3 separate regions of the Homo sapiens genome follow, and regions 2 and 3 are each linked to region 1. The links come from fine-mapping of genetic effects on gene expression. A gene starts in region 1. Each other region holds a variant in brackets. All regions are shown on one strand. Distances are between the middles of the regions.

What was found.
Region 2: its variant is fine-mapped to the expression of IQSEC3 in skeletal muscle (GTEx, PIP 0.98).
Region 3: its variant is fine-mapped to the expression of IQSEC3 in whole blood (TOPMed, PIP above 0.99). The same link has a PIP of 0.9 or more in aorta, atrial appendage, lung, thyroid, tibial artery and visceral fat.

What each region holds. Positions count from the first base shown.
Region 1 is chr12:63,187-72,956 of GRCh38, reverse strand. IQSEC3 (IQ motif and Sec7 domain ArfGEF 3) reads right to left here and starts at 6,190. Exons shown (of 14, transcript NM_001170738.2): 1 at 5,521-6,190. The coding sequence starts at 6,074.
Region 2 is chr12:161,692-171,461 of GRCh38, reverse strand. It overlaps IQSEC3 (IQ motif and Sec7 domain ArfGEF 3), which reads right to left. Exons shown (of 14, transcript NM_001170738.2): 8 at 9,397-9,536; 9 at 7,843-7,968; 10 at 5,929-6,028; 11 at 5,572-5,733; 12 at 2,357-2,449; 13 at 301-350. IQSEC3-AS1 (IQSEC3 antisense RNA 1) reads left to right here. Exons shown (of 3, transcript NR_183431.1): 2 at 3,755-6,150; 3 at 6,705-6,842. Among named protein-coding and RNA genes, the nearest start is that of IQSEC3-AS1, 16 kb to the left of the region's middle. RefSeq lists a silencer at 2,651-3,124. The variant C/G (reference allele first, on the strand shown) is at 4,292.
Region 3 is chr12:134,708-144,477 of GRCh38, reverse strand. IQSEC3 (IQ motif and Sec7 domain ArfGEF 3) reads right to left here. Exons shown (of 14, transcript NM_001170738.2): 4 at 5,124-6,211; 5 at 3,193-3,354. It overlaps IQSEC3-AS3 (IQSEC3 antisense RNA 3), which reads left to right. Exons shown (of 10, transcript NR_033859.2): 2 at 1-169; 3 at 1,069-1,239; 4 at 1,845-3,144; 5 at 3,234-3,566; 6 at 3,675-3,830; 7 at 4,108-4,238; 8 at 5,834-5,927; 9 at 6,026-6,178; 10 at 6,851-7,067. Among named protein-coding and RNA genes, the nearest start is that of IQSEC3-AS3, 9.6 kb to the left of the region's middle. The variant C/T (reference allele first, on the strand shown) is at 4,637.

The sequences.
Region 1 (9,770 bases):
CTCCTGCCTCAGCCTCCCGAGTACCTGGGACTACAGGCGCCCGCCACCATGAGCAGCTAATTTTTTTGCATTTTTTAGTTGAGACGGGTTTTTACCATGTTAGCTAGGATGGTCTCGATCTCCTGACCTTGTGATCTGCCCGCCTCAGCCTCCCAAAGTGCTGGGATGACAGGCGTGAGCCACCACGCCTGGCCCTGATTCCCTTTCTTTTTGTTAATGCCCTCATTGACTGAAATAAAGATGACCACCCCTTTCTTCCATGGAAATAAGCAGCCCTTTGGAGCCTCTGTGGGAACCTGCACTTTGTGCTTTTCCAGAAGCAGAGGAGCAAGTTGCTACAGTGGTCCCAGCCTTGGAAACCCTGCCAGATGGCCTCACCTCTGAGAGTCTGCTGGGTGCAGTGAGAGTGTCCCCAGGGCCTCTTACTAAGAACTCCTTACTAAGCTGCCATTGCCCTGTGCCCAGGGCCACTGAGATATGCTTAGGCTCCAGTGAAAAAAAATGTTCAGGCTTCCCAACAAGGCAGCTTGTCCAAAAATCTTTACATGGGGTGTAAATTCAGCAGTTGAGTCTCTTTCCAGATTGTGAGCCCTGATGTTTGTCCCAGCCCTTCCCTCTTTTTTAATGTTACCCTCCCTTCCATTCCTTCTCCACCCAGCCCCGACCCCAGCTGCCTTTTCTCGTAAGTGACCTTTGAAACTCGGGCTGCGCAGAGATTTGCTGAATCAGCAGGACCAACTGTTGTTTCCTTTGCTTGGTTTTGGGCCAGCAGGAAAATGTGCCAGGATGCCTTTGTGAGGCCCTATGGCATTCACTGCATTGGTCTGGGGAGAGATTGGGAGTGAGGAAAGAGGGAGCTGGAGGCTGGTAAGGAGGAGTGAGACAATCAGGGTTTCCCAGAGACCATGGGATGACTTGGTTCTCTTAAATGCATTATTTTTGGATGAAAAGAAAGGAAGAGCAGTGGCCTAGGCCTTCAGGAAGGCAAAGGGCAGCAAATCTTTGCAAGTGGTCACACTATGCCAGCTTCTAGCTATGAATAAAAAGACGCACACTCCCTTCTCCCAGTGAGCCTTCATCCTGGCCCCATTTCTTAGACTAGAAACTCTCTCCCTGCTGGGGATAGGGGAAGAACAAGAGGATAGGCAGATTGATGAGCATGGGCCATACGATGCCACCTCAGCAACCAGGCCTTCTGGGCACAAGGTAGACAAAGTCCCTGTGTGTTGAGACTGTCCTCACCTAGTGATAGGGTTTGGCCTCATGGGTAGGGACTTAGGATGAGCAGAGGGCTGTATCATCAGAGGCTGGAATGAAATGGACATGCAAAACAGGTATCTCCATAGATTGAATTTTCTGCTTTCTGTTCCCTTTCCAGCTATCCTTGCCTCTTACAATTCTGACATAAACCTTTGACTTCAGTGAAGAAAACCTGCTCTTTGGCTGTTAACATAATTTGTATACTCACCCTTTTTACCTTGTGCTGTTCTGATAGAGGATTGCTTTAGGCAGCTGCAATATACTTACACTTGTTTAGGCATTTCTAGATATGTGTCTCTTTTATTTTGAGCAAGGACCATTTGCTTCTTTCCAATCTTTCCACAGCACTGAGTGCAGGGTTTTGAATAGACTGGACACTTGATACATATAGTTGACTGACAGACCTTCACACTTTCTTTCTTAATAGTTTCCAGGATGGGCCAGTCATGAGCTATCACCTTCAAGCATGCAACTCTGACTCAATAGGAGCAGAGATCCCAGTTCCCATCAGCATCTTAGACAAATCAGGATAAAAAGCACATCCAGAACTCTTCTAGCTATCCCCAGCCTCCAGCCAGAATGAGAAGAGGGAGCTCAAAAGATACTCAAGATTGATTTTGTGTTTAAAGGATAAGGGTAGAGAAGAAAGAGATTTCCCTGTGTAGCTTATGTGGAAGAAGGATAGAAGGAAGAGAAGATGGGAGAGATAAAGTGTTTGGGGGAGAGGTAGAAGGGGAGAAGAGAATGAAGGAAAAAGGGTAGTGAGGCAGAGGAGGGATGTGAAAGGAAGAAGCAATGTAACAGAGAGAAGACAGGAGCTGTGGAGCCCTTCAGACTTCATAGTCATATTGAGGTTGGGATTTGGAGTAGGAGATGAATTTGAATGGGGATGCAAGAATTTATCCTCCAGCAATCATCTGCCTGTGGCCTTGGAGACATGGACAAGCCCTGTCATCCATGGACACTAAACGCATGACTGGTGGTTGGGCAAATGTGCTTAGAAGCCACTGAAGCCAGCCACTTCAGATAAGTTCATGTGCTTCCATGGCAAGAGGATTTGTCAGGTCAAGTTGAGGTTCTGGCACCAGCCAGGAAAGGGATAGTAATAAATTCTGTAGATGCCGTGAGCCTTGATTGAAAAAATAAGGAGGAGGAAGCTATGTTTGCTGCTTTCATTAAGAGGCAAAAGCAGTGGGGGTCAGAGCTTAGCAAGAATCAAGAAGCATGCAGAGAAATAATTTTAACCCTTCAAATGTTTTTCTTCCATAATATCTCTGCATTCACTCACCCACATATTGCTGCTTTCTTGGACTGACCTCCAAGACCACCACCTTTGTGTCTCCCTCAGCTGAAGGAGGGAGAGAGGCCAGATTATGTATTAATGCAGATAAGATGGCAATTAAATGATTCATTATTTTCCAGTCCCAGTTATCTAGGGCTTCTGCCTCTCCTGGAATTGGGTAGGAAGAGGAGTTCTGGGGATAAAAGTCAAACTGTGTGAGGACATAATGCATCTACCAGAGTGCCTGGCCTCTGGAAACCCTCACCCACTCTTCAGCCACCTCAGTGGGGTCGCGTTCTTGCTGAAAGGAGGCCAGAGGAAGAATGAGGGAGGATTCACAGGAAACCCATGATTGGAAGACCCACTGTGCCATCTCTTCCTCCCGCTTCAGCACTCCCAGTAGAGAACCAGTTCTGCGGGGAGCTCCCCAGGAGCAATACCAGGGAGGGGGCTGCTGGCTCTGCTCTCCTCCTCCTCACCTCTCCCTCTCCATGGAGATCTCTGTCTGCCTGCTGGCTCCATCTTGTCCTGCATCATAGACAACTATGGGCAGAGGAGAACAAACATACAAAACGGGCCACGGGCAGAGAGCAGGGTAGGACGAAACATGTCATTAGCAATGGTGATTCCGTCCTGAGCTCTGTGGGGAAATTGGTGTTGAAGTTGGGCCACTGTGGGGAAAGAAATGAGTGGTCCAGAAGATATTCAACCAGCCAAGATTACCATGTTTTCACATCCAAGGAAGGAGAGCTGCAGGGATGAGGGGAGGCAGGCACATCTATGGTCTCTATGTTTCTGAGTGTGCAGGATTGGGGAGCAGGAGAAAAAGCTGGAGAATCTGGAGAAAGTAAGGCATTACTGTTAAGTGCCTGGGGCAACTTTCTAAGTGAAAGATTCCAATAACTTCCACTCTGCTCCACCATGCTAATTATTTTTTATTTTTGTTCTGCTCCTTTGGGAAGCAAAAGCAGGACAGGTGAGAAGGAAAGGTGAGGATATTATAACTCCTCTCCAGAATTGACATGTGGAGCTGGACAGGAGCCCAGATGATTCCTAAATCCCAGGATTCCGAGCAGGACCAACTGAGTGAAAGGGTTTGGGTTCCGTAGGCCACTCTGAAGGCTATGGCTATGTCTTTGTCTAAGAAAAATAATCTTTCCTCAACTCTTCTTGGCCACACAGTGCCCTGAAGAGATGCAAAGAAAGTGGAGTTGCAGTGGGAGAGACAGGAGACACCAAAAGTCATGAGGAGAGAAATCATAATGACCAGGTAGCTGTGGCTGCCCTCAGGGAAGGGGACTGGAAAAATTCATCCCCTCATGTGGGGGAAAAGACCACTTAGTATCTTGGAACAATGTTGCCTTTTGCTGAGCCTTGGGCATTGAGGGAAAACTGACTTTCTGCTTTTTATGCCAGATAAGGAAAAAATAAAAATAAAAATGTGAAACTGAGGGAAGTACAAAGGGGTTTTGAGGGAGTTGGGGTAGAAAACTGTATCTTCTTGGGACTTGAATCAAATGTTTTAAGTCTGCCAAGCCAGATCATGTTAGACCTTCACCTCTTAGATCCTGTGGTTTTGATCAACGTGCTCTGTGAGCTACCCTGCCCTAACCCAACTTCTCTAACTCTACCACAGATGGTAAAAGAAAATGAGTTTTGAAGGAATACAGCAAATATTCACAAGTATCTCCCAGACTTAATGCACCTGGATGAAGATGAGATTCTCAGCTCTACTTCCCCCTCCCCATTCCCTTATGCATCACCATTGTCAAGGTCAGGTGCTGACCAGGGACAATTTCCCTTGAACTGTTCTTTGTTTAGTTCTCCATCACTTGCCTAATCAGAGAAAAGAAGCAGACATGGCCACAGCCTTTCCAGTACAGAGGAGAGAACATCCCAGACACTTTCATATCTTCTTCCCATATTCCTAGTTCATGGACCTCCTGAGTGAAGAAAGAGCTTGAAGTTCTAGGAACTGAGAGGTTAACATTTCTCTCAGGACCCAAGGCAAGATTTCAGTGATCACCAGATAACCGGGAAAAAAGGGTTTGCAGTTGCTGGCCTTAACAGGGAGATTTAAACAGGCATGGCATCTGAATACCAACTCCATCTGCCAACTGTCCCCCATGTCATTGCTCCCTTTCAACAACGGCCAAACACCCTGTATGAAAAACCCTCCTTGAGTTGGAGGAAAAAGCTGTAACCAGACTGAGTCCTCAAGCCATGCCTGAGTCCTCCATTGGTTTGATGGGATGTTCCCTTGCACCTCTTCGGCTCTGCGGGAATTCAGAGGAAGGGTGTCCAATCAGGTCAGAGAAGAGAAAGCTTCCCTAAATGAGCCACTCCTAGCTGTGGCTCCCACTTCACCAGCTAAAGAGCCACATTTTCTCTTCCTCTGCCTCCAGCTCCCTTGGTTTCCCACATCACTCCTGCTTTTCAGGTTTGTCCCCGGCCTCCTGGATTCCCCTCTACCCCAGTCCTACTCTTCCTGGGCCCCAGCCTTTTTAAAGCTCTTCACATGCCTCTTTCCAAGCCTTCAGCTTTTCTCACATCTCAGTCTCCATGCAAATACTTTTACTACCCAAACTTCCTTCCAAATTTTTTCTCACTTAAAAAGATTCCTTCAATGGTTCTCTTTTCTACAGTTTAATCTTCACTCGAACTTCAACCCAGCCTAACCCCGTTTAAATGCTGTCAGTTCCCAGTATCACCAATCGCTTAACACCCACCTCCTTCCTCCTTTGCTCCTACTAATGGTCTGGTTACTCCTTTTTGCTCCAGCATTCCCCAAAACCTTCTCAAGCAGGGATATCGTTCCCTCATTTACCCAAAATCTCCTTTGCACACTTCTGGCGCCTTCAGGCCACATCACTCCGGTCCTTTAGACTCCTACGCACCCAACGTCCCCGTCTCTCCCTCACACCCACTTGCTTCCCTTGCTCCCACCACAACAGTGCCCATCTCCTCTCCCCGCTCACTCAGGTCTCCTGCTCAGGACGCCCTTGCCGAGGGCGGAGGGGGATTTGTGCTGAAGGAGGGCTCCGGCAGCAGCGCAGCAACTCGGGGGACGCTCCTTCTCCTTGTCAGTCACGGCCCCTTGTGTCCCCAGATGCTTGTGGGGCGACTGGGGTGTGTGAGCCCTGCTGCCAGGGCCCCGCTGGGGCTGCTCCAGGAGCTGTCCGTGGTGCTGACGCGGCGGCCGATCGGGCGCGGGATGCGGCGCGGCTGCTGAGCGCTGTCCCTGGTCCTGGAGAGGTTCCTGGGCCCTGGCGGCGGCGGCAGGAGCGGTGGCCGGAGCGGCCGGCAGCGGGGCCGATGACGGGGGGACGAGCCCGGGCGGAGGCTGGGCTTGCAGCAGCTGCTGGTGCTCCCACAGGCTGCGGTTCTCAGCGCTCAGCTCGTCCAGCCGCCGCTCCAGCTCGTCGATACGCTCTCGCTGGGTGTGGATGAGGCTCTGCTGGTTCTGCACGATGGCCGTGAGCTCCTTGAGGTAGAGCACGGCGCGCACCGGATTCTCCAGCAGGCTCTCCATGCCGCCCGCCGCCGCCTGCGCCCTGCCTGCGCCTGGGCTGGCGGCGGGGAGCGCGAGGGCGCGGGAGCCCAGCAGCCCAGCGGTCGGCTCGCCTCCCTCTCCCACCGGCCCAGCCTCCCTCCCCCCGCCGGCGCCGCGTCACTGCCACCCCGACCTTCACACACGCATCGCGGGGCGGGGCGGCTGCGCAAGGCCCCACCCCCACCCCACCCCCTACCTCCAGACCTCCCCAACTCCTCGCCTCCCCACCTCGCTGCCTCTTGGCGTCAGCGAAGGCTCTGCTGCCTGCAGGGCAGAGAGGAGAGGGAGGAGGCCAGCGAGAGGGAGCCTCTGTCGGGGCGTGGGAGGAAAGCAAGATAACGCAGGCGACCCGAGAAGGACGGTGAATCTGACTGGCCAGACTGGGAAGTAGGCGAAGGGGAAGCAGCGATACTGGGAAGGTGCGGTGGGACCTGTAGGAGAAGAGAAACAGAAAAGAAAGGAAGAGAAGGGGAGAGGCCAGCAGAGAGGAAGCAGAAAAAGGGAAGGTGGGGCCAAGAAAGAGAAATGTGCTGGAGGACAGGAAGGCGTGGGGCCCTGAAGGGACGCGAATTCTTTTTTCCCAGGTCCAGGCCTTCCAGAGGCTGGGGTTCATCTAGAGACCTGCTGAGGAGGGGCCACACTCGCCTCTTTTGCTCGCAGCAATCTATTCTGCCAGGGGATTCCCTGGAACACAAGAATCCTGGGGCTCTAAGGGACCCTAAAGAGCGTCTGGTCCTGCTCCTTCCTTCATCCGTGACGAAACTTGGGATGGGAAGGCTGTTCATGCTGGGTTTCCTCTGGGAGTGAGACCTCAAGACAACTGTGGCAGTTCCTGATAGAAACACTAAATAAACGAGGTCCTCTGTGGCAAGGGCTAACGCTTCCAGAAGCTTCTGAATAGATCATTCTATTTGACAAACAGTTATAAAATGCACACTATTACCAAACACTGTGCTAGATGGTGGTAAGAGAAGCATGACTAGAATGGAATGTTAGGCTTTTTGAAGCTTATAAATAAGTGGGTGAAATTGGTCATGATTAACTTTGACGTATGATAGTGGTGGTGAGTAATCAGGCAGAGGTTTGCCCAGAGTGCTATAGGAGCCAGCAGCTTGGAGATCCAGGGAGGCTTCTTACAGGAAGTGACCCTTGGTGTGGGAAGGGTTTTCCATAAAGGGAAGACAGCATGAGCAAAAGCTCAGAGACATTAATCAGCACCGATTGAATCATTCATTCATGTCTACAATAATCACCACTCACTAGGTGCAAAGTAATGTACAGAATCTATGCAAGCCACATCTAGCATAGATAATAAGTTATCATTTCTATAATCAAGTTGATTCCAATCTCATAGAGTAGATATGCCATGCACATGAATAAGTAAAACACAACTCAAGATTTCTGTAAGAGCTCTTCAAGCCAAGTGCCATAGAGTTCAGGGGAGGGAGAGGATTCATTTGACTGTGTTGATCTGATAAGTTCTGACAGAGGTGTTACTCAAGTTGGGCCACGAAGAATGGGAAATATTTCAACAGGTAGACAGAACAGGGGGCCAGATATGAGAAAGATACATCAGGCAGCAGGGAAAAAACTAATGAATGGAAATAGAGCACTTGGTTTAAATTAATTTGGCAGGGAAATATCCCTTTCCTTTTCTTTTCCTTTACTTTTTTTTTTTTTTAAAGTCTTGTCTGTCACCGAGGCTGGAGTGCAGTGGCAGGATCATAGCTTACTCCATCCTTGACCTCCTGGGATCAAGGAATCCTCTAGCCTCAGCTTCCTGAGTAGGTGGGACTACAGATGCATACCACCATGCCCCGTGAAGGAAATGAGTTGTTCTTTCCTCTTTTATAGGAATGGGATGGGAAGGAGGAAGGGCTATGAGTACGCTTCGCATGTTTGTTATTGTGTTGTTCCGTTCTTCACACACATGTCCATCAGGCTCCCTGTCAACCTTCCATTCCCCCAGGGTAGGCATATTTATGGGTACCATGTGCCCAGTGAGCTGGCCCACCCCCCACCACCACGTGGTGCCAGACTTGAATGACCTTATGAGAAGGAACTTGTGCTCTGCACATATATTGGTTTATCTGCATTCCTGATGTGTTTTTATTTTGCTTTTCTCCCATTTATCTTCCTAGCAAACTTTCTTTGGTAAAGAATGAATAAAGGAAGCTTATCCACAGCTGAGCTCACGGTTAGGGGAAACAGCACACAGGAGGATGCTTTGGTAGTGACCAGCATTCCAGCTAAAGAATGGAGGTTGGGGGATGAAACAAGGGCACACAAAAACTCAAACTCTTTTTTCTGAATTTTCTTTGTTTGCCTAGTTGATTTGCTGTCCAAGAATTGGGTGCTTGGACAGCAAATTAGAGACGAATACGATAAGTGAAACAGCCTGCAGCATAATTATCCATGCGGATTGTTGAAAATGCAGATTTCTGAGCCCTATATTGTAGCAGGACAAGCCGCAGACAAAATTCCTCAGACACCGAGTTAAAGAAGGAAGGGGTTTATTTGGCTGGGGGCATCGGCAAGACTCCTGTCTCAAGAGCTGAGCTCCCCGAGTGAGCAATTTCTGTCCTTTTTAAGGGTTCACAACTCTAAGGGGGTGCGCGTGAGAGGGTCGTGGTCGATTAAGCAAGCAGGGGGTACGTGACTGGGGGCTGCATGCACCGGTAATTAGATCGGAACACAACAGGATAGGGATTTTTCACAGTGCTTTTCTATACAATGTCTGTAATCTATAGATAACATAACCGATTAGGTCAGGGGTCGATCTTTAACTACCAGGCCCAGGGTGTGGCGCCGGGCTGTCTGCTTGTGGATTTCATTTCTGCCTTTTAGTTTTTAGTTTTTCTTTCTTTGGAGGCAGAAAATGGGCATAAGGCAATATGAGGGGTGGTCTCCTCCCATAATACCAGTCCTGCTGTATTGGAATCACTAGGAATGGGGACCAAGAATTTTTATTTTAAAAACTTTTTTCATTAAAAAAATCAACTTTGTTGACTTATAATTTATATCCAATGATATGCTCCCATTTTATGTGCACAGTTCAATGAATTTTGACAAATGTTCATGCCCTATTTTAGTCAGTTCCTCTCATCCTCAGCTCCAGTTAACCACTGACTTGCTGTCTGCCAGTATATGTTAGTTTTGTCTGTTGTGGAATTTCACATAAAAATCATACAGTATACACTACTTCGTGTCTTTCTTTTTAAATTTTTTATTATTTTAAAAATTACTATGATGATTTTTGTTTTAATAGTTTCTGGGGAACATGTGGTGTTTGGTTACATAGATAAGTTCTTTTGTGGTGATTTCTGAGATTTTGGAGCACCCATCACCTGAGCAGTGTACACCGTACCTAATGTGTAGTCTTTTATCTCTTACCCCACTCCCACCCTTCTCCCAAGTCCCCAGAGTCCATTGCATCATCCTTAAGCCTTTGAGTCCTCATAGCTTAGTTCCCACTTACACATGAGAACATATGATATTTGGTTTTCCATTCCTGAGTTACTTCACTTGGAATAATGATCTCCAACTCCATCCAGGTTGCTGCCAATGCCATTATTTCATTCCTTTTTAAATCCACTCATTGATTGATGGGCATTTGGGCTGGTTTCATATTTTTGCAATTGTGAATTGTGCTGCTATAAACATATGTGTGCAAGT
Region 2 (9,770 bases), 99 kb before region 1:
GGAAGGATGGCCCTAGGGTGCCGTGAGCTCCGTCTCCACTGTGTTAGTCTGGGAGCTCGGCCTCGGAGGGCAGCAGGCTGGGGAAAGGGGAGAAAGAGCTCGTGGCTTAATTAGGCGCTGGAACAGTGGCATTACCCATGCTAGCAGTAACTTTTAATTGTATCTCTTGAAATTGGTAAAATGGTGAGTCGGGCTGGGGAGGCATTGATTAATACCTGAGAAGAGAAACAACAGAGACGGTGAGAAGAAGAACAAGGGGGCAGGGTAGTCACTCACCTGGGCAACCAGGGCTCCACTTACCTCCACCGTGCTCTCCGCCGGCCTCTCCCTGAGCGCGGCTTCCCTTTTGGCTTTGAATGCAAAGAGCACAGGGCTCATTCTCCACCGGCTGAGCCAAGCCCCTGCCCCTCCCCTGTGCCCCTCAAGCATCTCTGCAGCTAAGACTTGGGGTCACACTGCTCCTCACTGAGGCGGAGGTTGGGAGCCCCACTCTGCCACTTAGGAGCTATGTGACCTGGGCGAGATGCTACATCTCTCTGGGCTGCCGCAGACTAGAAGATCGCTGCCGCTCTTTCTGATGTTGGCATTGTGGAATCTGATTTACCCACAGTCAAAGCCTTCCCAGTACGAACTGTAAAAGGCTTGGAGGGGGCCTGGGTTGTGGGCGCCACGTTCATCAGCCTCCGTGGATCACAGGCTCCTTGAGCGTGGGCCACGCTTCTTTGCTCCAGCCCTGCAGACTGGCTGAGGGGGCAGGACTGAATGGGCTGAGGCCTGCACAGCACTCACCGCAGTGCCGGGCACGGTGAGAGCCGATAACTGCTCTGTAATTACTCTGAGGGCCTTCTGGCCGGCCTGGCACAGCAGCAGGGGCCCTGCGGACCCCCACGGACAGCTCATTGGCTCTTTGTGGCTGAGTCACTCCCAGCTTCCACCCCGACCCCCGCAGGAGCCCCTCTCATTTCCCAACCCCTGGGGGTGCCAGCTTCCCCCTGCTGTGCTCAGCCCTCTGCTTCCTGCAGCAGGAGAGGGAGCTGCACCATTGTTTGGGAATGAGAAAGACCCCGCTGTGGAGGGGACTAAGGGACACGTCCCTGGGGACAGGCATCTGGGCCTAACCAGGGCGGGCAGCTTCCAAAAGAGAGGCAGGAAGGAATGGCAGGGAATGACACACAGCTGAGGGCTGGCTCTGGGGTTCCACAGCTGAGAAAACAAAAGCAGCAACCCGTGCCCTATGACCTTATAGAAATGAAGAGGCCAGTGGAGATCAGGCAGCGTGGAGAATTACGGACGCACGATGGCAGGTCAAACCCATACAGGAAAGATTCCATCACAGAATCTCCACATAGCGAAAAGAGCCCCATGTCCTGCTTGGAAAGTGAATCTCATGTCCTCGCTGCCGTAACTAGTCCCCACGCTGCTGCCTGTTCCAAGTCAGGACTCAGGGCCGACTGTGGCGGGTCATGGACCACACGGGGCCCACTGGAGCTTCTCAGCTCAAGCTGGCGTCTCACTATGACCCTGGCTTTCCAGTGTTCTGCACAGGGCAGCAGCCATTCGAGAAGTGTTTGTTGAGTGTGAGAGTAAGTGACCGAGTTAACTAATGGGTGGACAGTTGTGAATGGCTTGCTGGGATTTCACTGGGATGAGACTGAATTCTCATGCATCTCCCCTCATGCTCTTTATTTGGGGCTGGTGGAGGGAGGTGGTGGAAACCTTTCCTGGCCCCCTGCAGGTGGGGTAAGGTTGGGGCAGGCCAAAGGAGGGGCCAGCTCTGGAGCCAGTGTGACTCGGCTGGAGTGAGCAATTCCACTGGAGAAACCACTAGAGAAGTGGAGTTTGAGGGTCTCTCTGGATTTGGGGTGGGCTGACCTGAGCCAGGGGTCAGGAAGTGCTTGTGGCTCATTAGAGAAGGGACTGTACAGAGAAGAGCAAGATCCAGATCCTTCTGGTCACCCTGCCCTCTTACACTGCCTGGTTGGAGAGTGTTCCTCGTGGGGCTTCTCTTGACCTCGCCTCGTCCAGACAGCCTGGCTGCAGGAGGGAAGGCCTCCCTGCAGGGGCCAGGATGCCAGGACTCTTGCCTGACTCCTCCAGGGCAGACAGTGACATCTCACACGGACTCCAGACCTCTGGTGCAGTTTGCAAAATGGACAGACACATTTCTCTCTCGCCTTCCTCCTCACTCCCACCACTAAAGCTCATGAGATTAAAGAAGGCAAGCCTGGCGCTCCTCAGCAGGAAGAAACACGCCACGGGAATGGGCACCTCTCCCTGCAGATTGCCCAGGACCCACACCCAGGGTCCCCGAGTGGCCTCCATGGGGACTGGTGCCCTGAGCGGAGCCGAGGCTCACCTGTCGGCGATCCTTGCTTTGACTGTGGGTCCCCCTGGGCTCCGCAGGGCTTGAAGGAGAGTGTCTTTGTTCCCTGCTGCTTCTCCAGCTCCCCTAAGGAATGCAGAGGCCCGTGAGCAAGAGAAACCTTAACCTCAACCACACAGAGGCGAGGCAGGAAATGAGGGGCCAGCAGAAAGGGGAGGAAGAGGAGGAGAGGTCCCAGTACATGCTGTGAAACACGGACCTCGGGTCTGGCCCCACCACTGAATAGCAAGTTAAATACCCCCTCGGAGCCGCAGTTTCGTCATCTGTACATGGGGATGATCCTATCTGCTTGAACGTCAGAGAGGCACAGAAGAGGCCGATGTGAGGGAGGTGAACTGCCTGGGTTTGGGTCCTGGTCCTGACACTCCCTGGCTGTGTGGTTTTAGGCAAGTTACCCAACCTCTCCATGCCTCACTCGAGAGGACAGCCAGGCCCACTTCACGGTGTCATTAAGAGGACTGCGTGGGAGATACACATAAAGCACAAGGCCTGGCTAGTGACCTGTACTCCTTAAGTATTAAGGTTTGTGCGAAAGTAATGGCAAAAACCGCAATTACTTTAGCACCAACCTGTATCAGTTTTGTTACATTGTGTGAAACGCACTTGGCACAGCAGAGCCTGCTGACAGGGGTGACACCCACCTCTCCACCCGGCGCCTGGGAGGACGGAGCCTGCCTGGGAGGACAGAGCCTGCCTGGCCAGCTGAGCCTCCGCAAGGTGTTCAAATCTCTCCCAAGGAGGAAAGTCCACACCGAGGGTGTGGAAGCTACAAGCCTGCAGTGCTAGGACATCTGTCTAGGTACTCAACTTTAATTCCTCTCACTGGATTGGAAACCTGTTCCTTCTTGTTCTTCTCTCAGTGGAGCTACAGAACTGCCGGCTGCCATCCTTGGAGATTTGACATGATTATTAAATCACTCCTCCCGCTTCTCTTTTCCAGGAGACATAACTCAAGTTCCTTTTATTAAAGCTACTCTCCTGGGCTCCATTTTCAGTCTCTCTGGTTGTCTAGAAACCAGGGACACTGAACCGTAGGCCCCCAAACCAGAACAATTTGTCCTGGTTGCCTAAATCACACCATCCCATCGATCAATGCTAAATATTTCTACTCAACTGAGAGTTGTTTCTCTCCCCACAGAGGGGCTCTCTTGGCTTTGGAGAAATTAGCCTGATAATTACAAGTGAGGAGTCCTGGGCCATTGGATGCAAACCTTGTTTTGTCACTGACTGTGAACTTGGACAACTTCCCTAAGTGCTTTTAGCCTGTTTCCTTACTTGTAAAATGATGCCCACTGTGGAAAGCTGTTGTGAGGATTAGTCCTCAATAAATGGTAGCTGATACTGTTTTCCATTTTCTTTTCTTTTTTGTAGAGACGAGGACTCGCTGTGTTGGCTGTTCTTGAGCTTCTGGGCTCAAGCAATCCTCCCTCCTGAGCTTCCCAGAGTGCTAGGATTACAGGTGTGAGCCACTGAGCCCAGCCCATTTTCTTTTTTTTTTTTTTCCTGGCTTCCTTTCCTCCCTGTCTCCCTGGCCTACCCTTCCTCTTCCCTCAGCTGTTCCTTCCCTTTCTCTCCAGTGAAGACTAAGGGCCAAGCATGAGCCTTTCTTCCTGCTCTTTTACCCTTGAGGCAGCAGGAGAGGATATTCACCTCCTGACATGACAGATTCTGACGCTATCTGCTCCTCTGTGACTTTGGGAAGCGGGGTATGTGCTGCTCCTGGGCTGATGGGGGAAAGTGCCTCTCCCAGCAATGCTGGTGCCACTTGGTGTGCTACGGCCCCCCAGGGCAGTGCGGAGCCATCTGGGACAGTTAGACAATGAGAGACGTGAAGCCATTTCAAGGTGCTTCCTTGAAAATGCTCCAGAAAAACAGCAGAGGCGGCCTCTCTGGGGATCCGGTCCAGCC[C/G]TTGAAAAGAATCTGTTTGTTTCACCACTGAACTCAAATAAGCCAACAGATTGAAGGAAGGGAGTTTCCACGCGCCCCTCCCCACCAAGCAGTTACCTGAGTTCCAGAGTCCAGTCCGATGGATCCCATTTTACCCTGGTTTAAATTGTTTCCTTAGAAAAAAATAAACAGAACCTCTTCTCTCACTCTCCAGTGGAAAGTATAGAATCAAACGTAAATGAAAATGACAGTTTCTAACATGCGCGACCTGGACACGCGGCTGAACTCCGAGCCTCAGCTGCAGAGTGGGGTCAATGCACCTACCTTGCAGCGTCACTGTGAGGATCCACACAACAGAAATAAACTGCTTAGTGTGTAGTAGGAGCCTCAAAAATGATGATTCAAAAGCACCAGCCTGTCACATTCATCCCCTGCTCAAAAACTCTCCCTGCCTTTCCTAGCGCCTAATGGACAGATATTAGTTCAGAAACACTTTATAACTAAGTGGCCATAGAGGCAGGCCTGAAGCCTATTTTCATTTTCTGTTTCAGTTTCTGAATCTGTTCTTATTTAGTCTTCCCTTAAAGGCTATCTGGCGCCTCCGTGATGCTTAATCAGGACAAGCTTGCAGATGGGTACAGGTTGCAGGCCCTTGCCTCTCTTCCCTTAACCCCACAGCAGCCAGTAAACCACCTGGACACAGAAAGAGACCCACATATTCTCTAAAATGCCTGAATGGAACAATCTAGAATCTAAGCATTCCTTATAGGAACAGAGACTACTGTAAGATGCGGGATAGTAAGAAGGCAGCCTAGACTCTTCAAAAGGACAATGTTTTAAAAAAAATGAAGTGGAGGGATGATTCAAGATTAAAAGAGAGTGAAGAAATGAGGCCAACCAGATGCAGTGTACAGACTTGGGCCACAGTGGGGGAGGTGACAGCAGACGGTTTGGTGGGAAGGAACGCACCAGAGCCCCATGGGCCTGCCTGGCCAGCTCGCTTGGTCATCCTGGTAAAACAGCAGAGCTCTCTGTTCCAAGAGGCCCACGCGCAGCCCCACATGCCTGCTGATCTGTGTACACACGTGTGTGCACTCTAGCAAGCCTCACTTTAATTGTGAAGAAACATGGGAACCGGTGCTCCCACCCGGGCTGTGGGAGTGTGGTGCGGTGGGGCCTGGACACGGGGAGGGTCCGAAGTGGGGCCAGCTCCCTGGAGTCAGGCATGTCTGTCTCAAGCTGCCCCTGTCCCTTGCTGAATGGGAACCCCCACCAGCTGCCTCGGGAGCCCGTGTCCTTACACTCTATTCGGATCTGCTCCAGCTCCGTCACCTCAGCAATGGACTCCTTCAGGTCCTCCACGAACTTCTGCATCTCGTCCGAGCCCAGGGCACAGAAATGCAGCACCTGCTTCTTCTCGGAGCCCGAGAGCGGGGTCACCAGTGTGATGCCATGAGAGTAATCTGGAAAGCAGACCCCAGGCCCCCAGTGGGCTGTGAGCAGCAGCAGCCGAGGGCCAGAGCCAGCCAGACATGAGGAGGGCACGGGGTCTCATGCCTCCACCCACTCTGCTGTCCAGCCCTTCTCCCTCAACTCGCCCCAGCCATTTCATCCATTCATTCCTTCTCAAAGACTTACACTGGCTGTCAAAGACTTACACTCGTTCTCAAAGAGCTGGAACTGCATGCCCAGCAGGCCAACTGACTTGCAAAAGGTGTACGTGGAGGAGCTCTTCTTCTTCGGGCAAAGTTTGAGAATCTGTTCAGGAGAGGGAAACAGGCATGCCCTGATGAACAGACACTCACGGACACATGGATGCACAAACACCCGGGGGATGCACGATCACACAAACCCACGCAGTGATGAATGTGCACATACAGGTACAGATATACATATATGTGCACACACTATCCCAAAATGTGCTTCTTCACTGCACAAAACCCTACAGTGGTTATTCCCTCTGTACTTAGAAGCCAAGCCACGGCGCCTGAGCTGGCCTGTAAAACCCACCTGATGTGGTCCTTGCCTTACTCTGGCCTTCTGCCCAAGTGTCCTCCCTGCTGTAGCTTGAGAAGGGCAAGCTCAGTTCCACTGTGGGCCCCTCGCATACACTGTTCCCACTCCACAGCTCTCCCGGCAGCTTTTTGCACGGCTGCATTACTCTCATTACTTAAGTCTCAAATGCTACCTCCTTAGAGATGCCTTCCTGGATCACCTCCTCTAAAAAACAAACCAAAGCAAGCCCAAACCTGGCCCTTAACTCCAGTCACTCTCTGTACTATCACCTGGTTTGTGGCCTTCATAGTGCCTTCCCCCAATCTGATATTATCTTGTTTGTCTGTTTCTTAATTATTTTCTATCTCCCTCCCCTACTAAAATGAAAGCTCGTTTTAGTAAAGTCATCTGGTTGCTTAATAAACAAATTTCTATTCAGCAGCTTCTGTGAGCTGAGCCCTGGAGATACAGGAGAACTCAGGACAGAGCCCCTGCCCTTAAGGTGCTTATGGAATGTGGAGTGTCACAGTGTCCATCAGGTGATCAAACAATAAAGCATAACAGCAAAAAAACAAAACCAAAGTGCTACGTGTTTTGAAGAAAATGAAACAGGGTAAGGAATCAAAAGTGATTTGAGACTTGAATGAAAAGGAGGAGGCCAGGAAGGCAAGAGGAGAGTGCAAGGTCTGGAGGAGCTTTGCAAGAAGGAGCAGCAAGTACAAAGGCCTGGCCCACAGGAGGGAGGCGCCTCCCAGGGCTGAGGAGAGGGCGGGGAGGCAGGTTAGGGAAAGGGGACACGTGGCCTGATGTGCACTCCAGAGAGATCACGCTGCTGCTCTCAGGGGGGTGGGGAGAGCCGTGTGGAGGCTGATGTGGTTCACTGAATGTACCAGGCGTGCACTAAGACTGTAGTAGTGGAGGTGGTGAGAGGTGGTTCAGGCTTGTGATCACTTTGGAGGCAGTGCCAACGTGGCTCATGGATAGAGAGGGCCGGTGCGAGGGAGACACAAGCCCTGCTCCAGTCCTGCTCACCAGTTTTCCAGACCTACAATGATGCCTGGCACATGGTCAACGCTGATCAAATATTTGTTGAATGGATACTTCTTTTCAAAGAGCAAAAAAAGTATCTGTGGGTACAGATGTGTGTATGTGTGTGCACGCACACACACACACCAGCCTCGCCTAGGCCCAGGGACAGAGCATGCTCCGCCTAGGCCCTGCTCCTCCCAGGCCCTGGGGTCTGAGGCACAGCCCTGTGCACTCCCTGTCCTGGGCTTCCTGTAACGTGGAGAGGCCAGTGGTCTGGGAACTAGTTCGTTAACAGTTTGTGCAACCACGAGCAGATCATCTGACGTCTCGGTGTCATGACTTATGAGGTAGGAATTAGCATGTCTGCCTGAGCCCCCTCACGCCCACGGTGTGAAAGCACCATGAAGGCAGATCCGTCCCACGGAACAGGCATTCTGTCTGAAAGCTCTGGGCGTCCTTTCCTGCCCACTTCAGGGACCCTGCCCAGGCTGACCAGGGCGGCAGAGGCAGCCCCAGCCCAGCCCAGTCCCGGAGCGGAGGCCACTCACCACCAGCAGGTCATTGAAGAGGAACACCTCCCTCTGATGCGCTGCCTGCTTCTGCAGCTTGTTCACATCCGTCACCTCGAAGAGCCGGCTGCAGCACACCAGGCGGCGGTGGGGCACGGACAGCACCTGCACGCGGGCAGGGCGCTCAGCGGGAGAGACCAGAGGCCTGGAGGCCTCCCCACCCACGCGCCCATTTTCCAGAAGAGGAGACAGCCCGGGAGAGGGGAGGGGCCCGGTTCTGTGGAGGGAGGAGAGGGGAGGGGTCCGGTTCTGTGGAGGGAGGAGAGGGGAGGGGTCCGGTTCTGTGGAGGGAGGGGAGGGGAGGGGTCCGGTTCTGTGGAGGGAGGGGAGGGGAGGGGTCCGGTTCTGTGGAGGGAGGGGAGGGGAGGGGTCCGGTTCTGTGGAGGGGGAGGGGAGGGCTCCGGTTCTGTGGAGGGAGGAGAGGGGAGGGGTTCGGTTTTGTGGAGAGGGAGGGGAGGGGCTCCGGTTCTGTCCTGGGGCCTGGACTTGACTCTCATCCTTCTCTCTCCTCGTCTGAGGCTCTTTCCCTCGCACGTTCACCCCCTGTCCCAGGGCTCATCCCTGTCATGCTTCTTGGGGAGCACGGCCAGAGAAGGGGCCCACTGAGCCACAGTAAATGAGGGGATAGAGGGACAGGAATAGGAAATTGAGAAGAGCTTGCAGGCTGTTCCAGTCCAGCCACTGTCAACCTGCTTCCCTCCGTAACCTTGAGGGCATCCCCTGCCCCAGGCTGCGGCCTGCAGATATGACACCTCCACCCTTTCTATACTGCAGAGATGCAGGTGTGCGAGAGCGAAGGGATCACAGAGACACCTGGCATCTACTCCAGCGTGTAAGACAAACCAGTCGCTTGCAACCCGACAGATGCTGAGACCTCAGCAATAAAGGCTCTCAAAGCAGAAAAGCCTGTCCCTGCACAGACTGGGAGGAGGGAGCCCAGTGCAGGGCCTCAGAAGAGATCTCCAAACTCTCCCACACCGTCCCCTGAGGCAAGAATATGAGGAGGAGGAACTGGAACCCCCATGACATCCTTTATAGTATAAAGTGTAGTAGCCTACAGAGAAGTCCCACTTTAAAAATCATGGCAGGCTTGGAACATGCTGCCTGGGACACAGGTCACTACCAATAGGACAAATCTATGGTGATGCCACAGCCTGGAGCCTATTGAGCCCATTTCCTGCCTTCCACTCATCAGGACCATCCAGGAATGCCTGGTAGTCATGCTGTCCTAGGAAAGGGATACTAAATCTCATCTGGCCACCCAGATGCTTCCACCCTAGACCACTGGGCAGTCCTTCCTGACATCTCATCTCCGTCTCTCCTGCTGCAGTATCGGGTGGCAAGAGGCAATGAGGAAATCAGGCAAGAAAAAAAAAAAGAGATGCAGTGTCTGGCACACAGTAGGTACTTCATAACTATCATGTGAATGAATATGAAAAAAGAGTTTTGGAAAGGTAAGAAGGAGAATGGGAAGAGATGCCAGGAAGAAAGAAAGGAAAGGAGACGGGAGATAGGTAGCTTGTGGACACTCACTGTCTTCATGCCCACAATGGACTTCTCCACCTTGGTGACGTACGTGACGTGGTCCTCATTGGACTTGAGCTCCTTCTGCTGTATCCTCTCATAGATGCCTACCACCAGCTCCCTGGGGATGTCAGCGCCATCGTCCACACCTAACAACGTGGAGTGGGCAGGGGTGGTGGTGGGGTTGGGAGGGAGGGTGTCAGAGCCCTGGAGCCAGACAGAAGAGACCCCCATCCAGCCTGGAGCTCCCGGGGGGTGGCCTTGGTTCTTGCCATGCCTTCAATGGCTGGTGCCTCATACCCATTCAATTAAGAACAAGTTCCTTAGCCAGGCACCAAAACTAATGATATGGCCCCAACACACATCTCCTGCCTCACCTCCTG
Region 3 (9,770 bases), 72 kb before region 1:
GGGCTGTTTTAGTCTCCAAGGGGATGGGTGATTTATATCCTTTTATTCGGCAAACAGCTTTGTACAGAATGAATACCGCTTGCTGAATGTCACCAGGCGGGGGCAGGGGAGCCGTATAGAATCCCAGTGAAGCCTTCCAGGCCTGGGCAAAATGGCACCTGGCGACTCGGTTAGTGTGTGTGTTTTCTCCGGCGGGAGTAAGGAAGACACAGTCAGAGTGGAAGGGAAATGCAAAGACTCCAGCGCCCCCCTCCCCTGCTAGTGCCTGCCACTTTCTGCTTCTCCATCTTCTCCTGCCCTTTGCAGGACAGGGCCCTCTCCACCTCGGAGAGAAGCAAGGCAGTCAGTGACCTATGGACTTCAGGGAGGGGCTCCTTTCTGTGGCGCTGAGTCAGCATGCCAGGCCTGCAGGGCTACACAATCAAGCATGAGGGATTGCGGCTTTCACCAGGGCATATCAGGGCTTAGCTCTGCACTCAACCTTGCCCAAGCCAGGGTTCCGGCTGGAGGCCCCTTGCTCTTCTCACTCTCTTTCCATGCTCCTGCTTCTCACCTCTCCCCATCCACACCTGGGTCTGTACGTTCCCTGAGACTGTGAGCCATGCCTCTTCACACACACACACACACACACACACACACACACACACACACGGGTGCCCAGCGTGGCCCCATTCTCAACACACAATAAATAAGTGCTCGATGTTTGTTGAATGAATAACAAATGGCCAACTCATTCCCCCATGAACCCTGGCACCCCAGCACTGCCCTGCATGAACCCTGGCACCCCAGCACTGCCCTGCATGAACGCTGGCACCCCAGCACTGCCCTGCATGAACGCTGGCACCCCAGCACTGCCCTGCATGAACTCTGGCACCCCAGCACTGCCCTGCATGAACTCTGGCACCCCAGCACGGCCCTGGGGCCTGTGGGCTGCTCTGGCAGGATGACAAATCATGCCCCAGTGTTTAGGGCAGTGCTACCAATGCACTAAGAGATGGGAAAGGTGGTAGATTCTCAGGACTTGGAGAAACTTTTGCAATCACATCGCCCAGCCCTCTCATTTTACAGATGAGGACACCGAGGCCCAGAGAGGTGTCCTGCCAAAGCCACACAGCACAGAGGAGCAGAGCCCGGGTCCAGCTATTTCTCCTATCTCACCACGCTGCCTCTTCTCACTGGAAGAGTGTACCAACGCGGGAGTCTGGCCCCTACCCATCCCAAGCCTGATCCCTACCTAAGGTTAGCCCAGCCCCCAGCCCCCAGCCCAGCTCCCCTCCTCAGCACAGGCTTGCAGCCACTGCTCCAAGCCTCCAGCCCACAGCCCATACACGCAGCCTCCCAGGGAAGAGGGCAATTAGTTTCCATTGTGCGACTCAGCACCACCTGGGCTGCAGGAAAACGCTGTGTTCCCAGCACTCCAGATCAATGTGGGCCTTGCAGGTTAGAATTTAGGGCGCAGGCCACATGGAGACTGGGAAAGACAGAAGAAAACAGACAACAGTCAGGGCCTGTGGGTGAAGCAGAGTCACTCCTGCCCCCAGAGCAGAGAGACAGCAGGGGTGCCTGGGGCTACGGGGCCAGCACCTCACCCTGGCTTGGGAAGGGATGGACTGGGACAACAGTGCAGGAAAGCCAGAGAGATGAGCCAACTAGGGGACACAGAAAAGGAAGGGCGTGAGGAAATGCCATCTCTCCCCTTCTGCAACCTAGATGTATCCTGGATCCCAGTAGCACCTCCATGGGCCCCCACAGCAGTGCTGGGGAAGGGAAGGGAAGCCGGAGGGAGAAGAGAAAGGAGGTGAGAGGGAGGCGCTGCCTAGCATTGTCTCTCTTTCCTCTTTGAGGTCCACAGAGCGTCTCCACCAGCAGCTCCAGGAGGGATGATAAATTGTCAAAAGCCACCAAGAGTCAGGGACAGGAACTCAGTTCTGCCCAGCTGAGGGCTGTGCAGGGATTTCAAGGTACCTGTGCGAACCCCAGCCCTCACTCATTGAACTCAGTCAGAAAACCACCGCGTCAGTGGATTTAGAAATGTGACAGGGATTTCAGAGGGCAATGGGTCCAGCCCTCACAACCCAGCACCACTCTGCAGGCATGGAAACGCAGGCCCAGAGGACAGGGGCTTCTCAATATGGGCACACAGCACCAAGACAGCTCCATAAATAGAAGTGAAATATCCAAGCTCCCACTCCAGGGAAGCTGACCACTGGGTGGATGACTCCCCCAGCGTCCAAACCCTCTCTGGCAGTCCCTTGCTGCTCCAGGAGCGAGGATGAAAGGGAGAGCTCTTCCCAGGGCCTCCGGGGAGACACTTCTGCTGACTGTCCCCAAGGAGAAAGAGGGGAGAGAAATGAGGGAGGGTCCCTGAAGAATGGAGACCTTCAAGAAGGAGGCCAACCTCGGGGACCAGTGGAAGCCAGAAAGAGCACGGGGGCATGGCAGGGGCTGAAGCCGATGTCCCAGGGAAGGAGTAGCTGCAAGGCCCCTCAGCCTCAGAGGAGCGCCAGCCCCGCCCTGCCATTCTGGACAAGGCATGAGTGTGAAGAGACTCTTGCCTGTCCACACTATCAAGGCTGAGCGGGGGCAAAGGCAGCCCCCTGGGGGTCCCCACCCTGCTACTGGACTTTAAAACCATTTTCTTTGGTTTTAAAGAAACAATTTTTCTTTGGTCATGATTTTGTTGGTAGATTTATCTTTATGGAATTGTAGTATTTTCTTGCTCTAAAACCCTCAGTTTAACCCCTTCTTTTTTCTGTCTCACATTTTTGCCTCCAGCGATATGAAAATGAACCTTGGAGAATGGGAGGGTCCTGGGGGAGGGGGGCTGAGGGGCTCTTCACCAGGCAGAGATGAACCCCAGTGCTGACACAAGCCCTTTCCTTTTCCTGGTTTCTCTTGCCCTGGAGAGTGACAGGCAGAAAGGGCTTTTTGTCTCTTTGGACCATTTCTGTATCCCTGCTGCCTCAAACGAAGCCTGGCCTGGGGCGAACTCAATCAATGACTCTGACGGGAGACAGGGCTCCGGCCCACTGGGGTGATGGGCTAAAGAGGGGATTCTGGTTCCTGTGGACAATCTGGAAGCTGGAAGCTGTTAGAACTGGAGCGAGGATTTCACCAAGGAGCTCACAGAGAGAGCCCGGGCAGGTGGGGTGTGGGAAGGAGTGGGGAAAGCCCGGAGTGTGGGGTACTCACTCCAGCACGTCGCGGTTGAACTGCTTCTTGCTGTTGCCCAGGAACTCTCCAATCATCTGGCGGCTGAGGCCCTTTCGCTGGAGGAGGAAATGGGCCACACCGATGGGGGTGTCCGGGATGAAGCCGCGTGAGATCAGGAACTGGATGCCCTTGTCGGGGTTTCTGGAGGTGGGGGTGGGGAGAAGCAGTAGAGAGTGAGCTGAAGCCATCCATGACTCTTTCCTCCCTGTCTTCCACCCATAGAAGTACCCAGAGGTTCTTGGAAATCCAGTTCCCCATTGAAGCTTCTCTCACCAGAGCCTCAACCCACTGAATGTCCTCACGCAGAGGATGGTGTGTGACCAGAAGGAGGACAGGGGAGATCTGCAAACAAAGTGAATTCCAGAGCAGATGGAGGAGAAGTACCCTTCTCTGTCCCTGCCTCCTGGGTCTTACCCCAGTCCTGCCCTTCCCCCTACCCATATCCTGTTGTCAATATGCAGGTCCCCACCGCAGACGCCCCAACCCTGGAGAGAGGGTGGGAGAAACAGAGGTGAGACCTCCGCCACACCACCTCTTCCCTTTGCAAGCTTTGAAGCCATGCTGCTCCCTGAGCTGTTCCTCACAGGTCCGGGAGGAGATAAGTACAGAAACACAAGGTAAGCACTGAGAACCTCCCATAGCATTTCGACATTTTCCGGGACAGCCAGGCATGTGATTGTCTTTCTAGCACCTCATTTTTATTGTATTTTACAAAAGTATTAGCCCACAATGTATTTTCAGAAGGGTGTGGGGGAACAAAACTGGTTCTTCACTATGGATAGTTTAAGAATTCCTGTCTTGGGGCAGATGAGTGTCTGTATGAGTTTTCATGTGCATGCAGAAGAGACACTGCAGAAGTGGGAGTGGTTCAGAGTCAGATCCGCCTTTCCCTAGGTCTGCCGAGTACTAGCTATTTCATCGTGTGCATTTCGCCTTACTGGTGTGAGCCGGCTTCTTTTCTGTAAAACAGCATGGTAATACCTCTGTGTAGATACTGCTGGAAGATTACAGATGCTTTATGTAAGGTGAGCTATGAACAGTAGCTACTTCCCCTAGAATAGGAGCCTCTTGAGGCCAGGGGATGTGTCCTTCTCACCTCTGTGGTCACAGTGCCTGGCACCCAATAAATAACAGCCGAATGAACGAATGAACACGCATTAGGGCCGGGGAGATGTGCTCTTGGCGCAGGGTTATGAAGGGGCGAGTGGAGGATGGAGGCGAGTGCCTGCCTCCTGGACCTGACATTTCCATGGGAGGGGCAGGTGTGCTTCCTTTCCTCTGCTTGGGACTGGCTGTATACATTCGGTGCAGGACCAGTCCCGGTCTCGCTGGGGTCTCTGAGCTATGGCGGTCGGTCATTTCTCCCCTGTTCTCTTTCTCCTGTGCCTCTGCCTGCTTCACACTCTCTCTTCCTCGTAGCCCT[C/T]CCCTCTCCTGCTCTCAGCCGGCATTCTTTACGAGGCGCCTCTCCTCCCTCCCCCACCCAGCCTCGCATTTCACCAACCCTGGGAGCTAATGCGTTTTCCCTGGCTTCATATCCACCCGAATGATTGCTGCGTAATCCTCAAACGGCCTGGACTGTTATTTACTTAATACTGTCTTTTCTTTTACATTCTCTTACTTTTCAAACCCTAGCTTCATCTTAAGCTGTAACAGTTGTGAAAGCATGTGTCTGATGTGTTATTTTTTTCCTTTAATCTTTCTTAAAATAAACTCAGGATGATTAAAATAAAATATGTACTTCCTAAACATGACCTCAGGGATCAGGCACGGCACAGATGCGCCTGCCTGGAGGACCCTGGCATGACGTGGGAAGTTACCTGGCGCCCTGCTTGGTGGAGGGAAGGTGCCCTCCTCCTTCCCTCCCTCCCAGGACGCCCAGGACTCCGGGCTGGGGGCCGGGGCTGACTTACATGTTGAAGAGGTTGAGGCCGATGCGGTAGAGCCGCTTGCGCAGGGTGTCGGTGGAGAGCGTGGGCGACTTGCAGCTGGCTGGGTTCTCGCAGTGGTAGCGCGGCAGGCTCAGGATCATGGCCTGCAGGGCGTCCTTGGAGGCGGAGGCCGACGCCTCCGAGCCTGACTTGGCGGACTTGGTGGACGTGCTGCTGCTGCTCAGCTGCTCCAAGTCGCCTGCCTCGGCCTCGGCCCCTCTCCCCACCTCCGCCGTCTCCTCCTCCTCCTCTTCCTCCTCTGTTTTGGGGGCTGTGGCCCCATCCGCCGCCCCACTAGCCGCAGCCTCTGCGCATGAGTCCTCGGCTGACGCGTCCTCCCGGCCCACGGCGGGGGCTTCCGGGGCCTCCCGCCCAGAGGTCTCGCCCTGCTCGGCCTTGCCCGCCGCGGGCTCTGCGGGGGCCTGGACCGTCTGAGCGCCCAGGCAGTTGGCCACCGACAGAGCCGTGGAGGAGGAGACGGATATGTTCTGGTTGGCGATCTGCACCGTGACGTCCCGGAAAGCCATCATGAGGGTCCCGCTGTGGGCCGGGGGCAGGCCGGGGGTCTCCGCGGCGTCATCCCCGGGCCCGGGGCCCGCGCTCTCCGGCGCCCGCCCCTCGGCCTCCAGGCCTGGGGGCCCCGCGGCCGCCTGCAGGGCCTGGTGGAGCTGGTAAGCGCCACTCTCCCGCAGGGAGCACATGGTCTTGAGGCTCCACGTGCTGAGCGCGTCGTCGATGGACTTGGCCAGGGATTGCACCTGCTCGGTGAAGGAGTCCTCCAGCTCGGTGAGGGTGCCTGCGAAGGTGGGCGGCAGGGAGGGCGAGCGCACCAGCGGCAGCCCCACGAGGCCGTAGCCCTCCATGAGCGCTTTCTCGGCCGCCAGGCTCTCGGCCGTGGGTGACCGCACCTTGCGCAGGGAGATCCGCCGTGGCAGGCGGCTCTCCAGAAGCGAGTTGCGGATTTTCTCGAAGTTCTTGCTGAGCTGGTATTGGCGGAAGGCGGTTTGGATGGTGCAAGCGGCGCGCCGGGACACCAGGTGACCGCCGTACTTATGTTCTAGCATTTCAATCTGCAAGGACGAGGACAGAGAGGAGGAAGGGCTCAGAGGGGAAGGGTGGTCAGCCCTTCTGAGGAGTGGTGGAGTCACCCGGCCACACTCGGGTGGGGCCCAGGAATGGACGGGGGCGGGGGGGCGCTCCTGGGCAGCTAAAGTCTGAACCGCCTAGAACGTCCTGGCCACGTGGCAAGACTCCTAGAGGTGTAGGACGGAGGGGTCCGTTCTGGGGACTAGTGATGTCTCAAGGGCCAGGAGGGAGGTGCTGCATATGGCGTTCAGATATCGATGCTGTGGCGGGTATTACAAAATGTTCATGGCCGGGCGCATTAGCTCAGGCCTGCAGTCCTAGCATCTTGGGAGGCTAAGGAGAGAAGATTGCTTGAGCTCAGGAGTTTGCGACCAGGCTGGGCAACATAGCTAGACCTTGTCTCTCTCTTGAAAAAAAAAAAAAAATTAACTGGGTGTCCTGGTGCGCGCACGCCTGTGGTCCTCAGCTACTGGGAAGGCTGAGGTGGGAGGACTGCTTGAGCCCAAGGAGTTGGAGATTACAGTGAGCTATGATTGTACCACAGCACTCCAGCCTGGGCAAAACAGTGAGACCTTGTCTCTGTTTTTTTCTTTTCTTTTCTTCTTTTTTTTTTTTTTTTTAAGTTCATGTCAGAGATGCATACAGAAGTACTTATGGGTAAAATGCATGATATCTTGAAGTTGTGTTAAAATATTCTGTCAAAAAATGTGGAAGAGTTAGATGACACAATATTAATGTTAATAAATATTAATAAAATGGTTACAGCTGGATGATAGCTACGGGGGAGTTTATAACACTGTCGTTTCTACTTTTGTGCACACTTTAAAACAATAAACAATGAAAAACAGAAATGCTAAAAAACCTCACAGCTCCTCGTGCTTCCCCGCTCCTCCCCTAAACAATGAAAAACATAAATGCTAAAAACCCTCACAGCTCCTCGTGCTTCCCTGCTCCTCCCCAGCAACCATGTCTCTGTGTTGGGGTGGCTCCTTTCCCTGGGAACATCAGAAGGGTCGGGATTGGGGTTGGACCATCTGTGTGTTCCCAGTACATAGTTAGCTGCTCAGTAAACGTGGATTTGCTAAAAAGTTGAGTGGGTGTCTCAAGAATGGGGGTCCCTCCAGGCCACCATTACCAAGAGTTCCCCAATTTGAGTCACCTCTGCTCTTACGGTGGGAGCTGTCCAACCAGGGCAGGGCTGGGTGGGGTGGGCTCGGGGGCATGGCACCTCACCTGGGCAGATCTGATCCCAGGAAAACTTCTGTCAGGGGGCCAGCGTGCCTCCTCTCGGCTCTGTCCTCCTGTCCGTGGGTTTTCTCCTCTCAGGTTGCTACGCTCTCACTTTTCCTCCCTATGGAAACTTCTCAGGAAAGGACTGGGGAGGTATGACAGCCATGCCCCCAGAGGCTTCTGCCTTTAAATAAGGGACAAGGCCTGTGTGAAGGTGATGGGCTTAAATGGTGGCATCCTAGACTCTGATCAGCCCTCAGAGAAGTTTGGGAAGTGCGAGTGTTTCCTATTCACAACCAGACATGCCACTTACACGTGGTGTCCTTCCCGAATGAACGAAGAATCGGGATGGGTGCGCTGAGATGAACGACTCAAGGCAAGAACAGGGACGTCCCGTGTTCTCCAGGGATCATGGGTGGGGAGGGTACAGATTGTTCTCCAGGGATCATGGATGGCGAGGGTACAGATAGAAAGGCCATACTTCATCCCTCAGCACAACACTTCAACCTGCTTCCTGCTCCACTGGAGCCCCCAAAGGCTGCAGCCAGAATGAATGCCTGCCTCCCACAGCCCAGCCGTGCCCTCTGCTCCCTCCCTGCAGGGTGTGATGGGTGCCCCATTCCACGCTAGCAGAGGTAGCCTCTTAGCTCAGGACACCTTGTGGATTCAACCCCAATCCCCAAGGACAATCCCAGATAAAATGAGACATCCTTAGTGCTTGCCTCCAGTGCTTCCAGCCTGGCCATTCCCATTCCCCATTCCCAAACCTGGGGACATCATTCTGTCTCCCCCAACATCCAACTCTACCCTTGGAGATCGTTGGAACTCACGCAGATTAATGTGTAAATGGCAACTAAGCCTTCCTATATGGCTTCTCCCAAAGTTACTTGCATTTCATGAGGGACAAGGCCCTGAGCAGGAGGAAGCTCCCAGTGCTATCACAATCCCCCTATTGGAGGGGTCTTCAAGGTGCTCTAAACCACACCAAGTGTATTCCTCATCTATTGCTGTGTAACACATGACCACAAATCCAGCCACTTAAAGTAGCACCTGTTTATTTCTCATGCAGCTCTGTGAATCTAGTCTGGGCACAGCTCATCTGGGTTATCTGCTCGGGATCTCACCAGGCTGAAACCAAGATATCAGTCAGGGCTGCAATATCATCTAAGGTGTGGGGTCCTCCTTTGAGCTCGCTCTTGTTGGCACAATTCAATTCCTTGTAATCACAGGACTTAGGCCCTCAGTCACTAGAGGTTGCCTGCTGTCCCCTACCATGTGGCCTGCTTCATAACCTGATAGCTTGGTCCTTCAAGGCTAACGGCACAGTGTCTGTCTGGGGCTTCAGCTTCATTTATAGGGCTGACCTGATTAGCTCAGACCCACCCTGGGTGATGTTTCTTTTTATTAACTCAAAATCAACCAATTGGTAACCTAATCATTGGAGTGATGTCCCATCACATTCACTCATCCTGCCCATACTCAAGGGAAGGGGATTATATAGGATGTGTACACTAGCATGAAGGGGACTTGGGGGCCATCTGAGAATTTTGCCCACGGTACGAACTGGACACTTCCCCACTTGATCTTTACTAGGTATGACCTCATGCACCCATAAGAGACACAGATACTTGCCTCTGAGGCATTCTGTTCCTGCTCCTGTGGAAATAATGTAGCTTGGCTCATTCTCCCTGCTGAACTTTGACACATTCCCTGAGGCCTGGAATAGGGACTTGGCTTTGGCTCAGGCAGGAAAGTCCTTCCCCAAGGGGAAATGTAGAGAGGAAGGGGAACTGATCACTAAAATGTCTCCTTTTCTCTCAATTTCTGTCTGTCAGCCCTATTCAAGCACCATGAGAAACTGACAGATTTCACATTTCTTTTTTTTTTCTTTGAGATGGAGTCCCGCTCTGTCACCCAGGCTGGAGTGCAGTGGCACGATCTCGGCTCACCATAACCTCCGCCTCCTGGGTTCAAGCGATTCTCCTGCCTCAGCCTCCTGAGTAGCTGGGATTACAGGTGTGCGCCACTGTGCCTGGCTAATTTTTGTATTTTTTTAAGTAGAGACAGGGTTTTGCCATGTTTGCCAGGCTGGACTTGAACTCCTGGTGCCTTGGTGATCCGCCCACCTTGGCCTCCCAGAGTGCTGGGATTACAGGCGTGAGCCACCGTGCCCGGCCAGATTTCACATTTCTTTCCCGTCTGGCCTATTTATACCCCACCTTGGCCTCCCAAAGTGCTGGGATTACAGGCATGTGCCACTGTGCCTGGCTAACTTTTGTATTTTTTTTAGTAGAGACAGAGTTTTGCTATGTT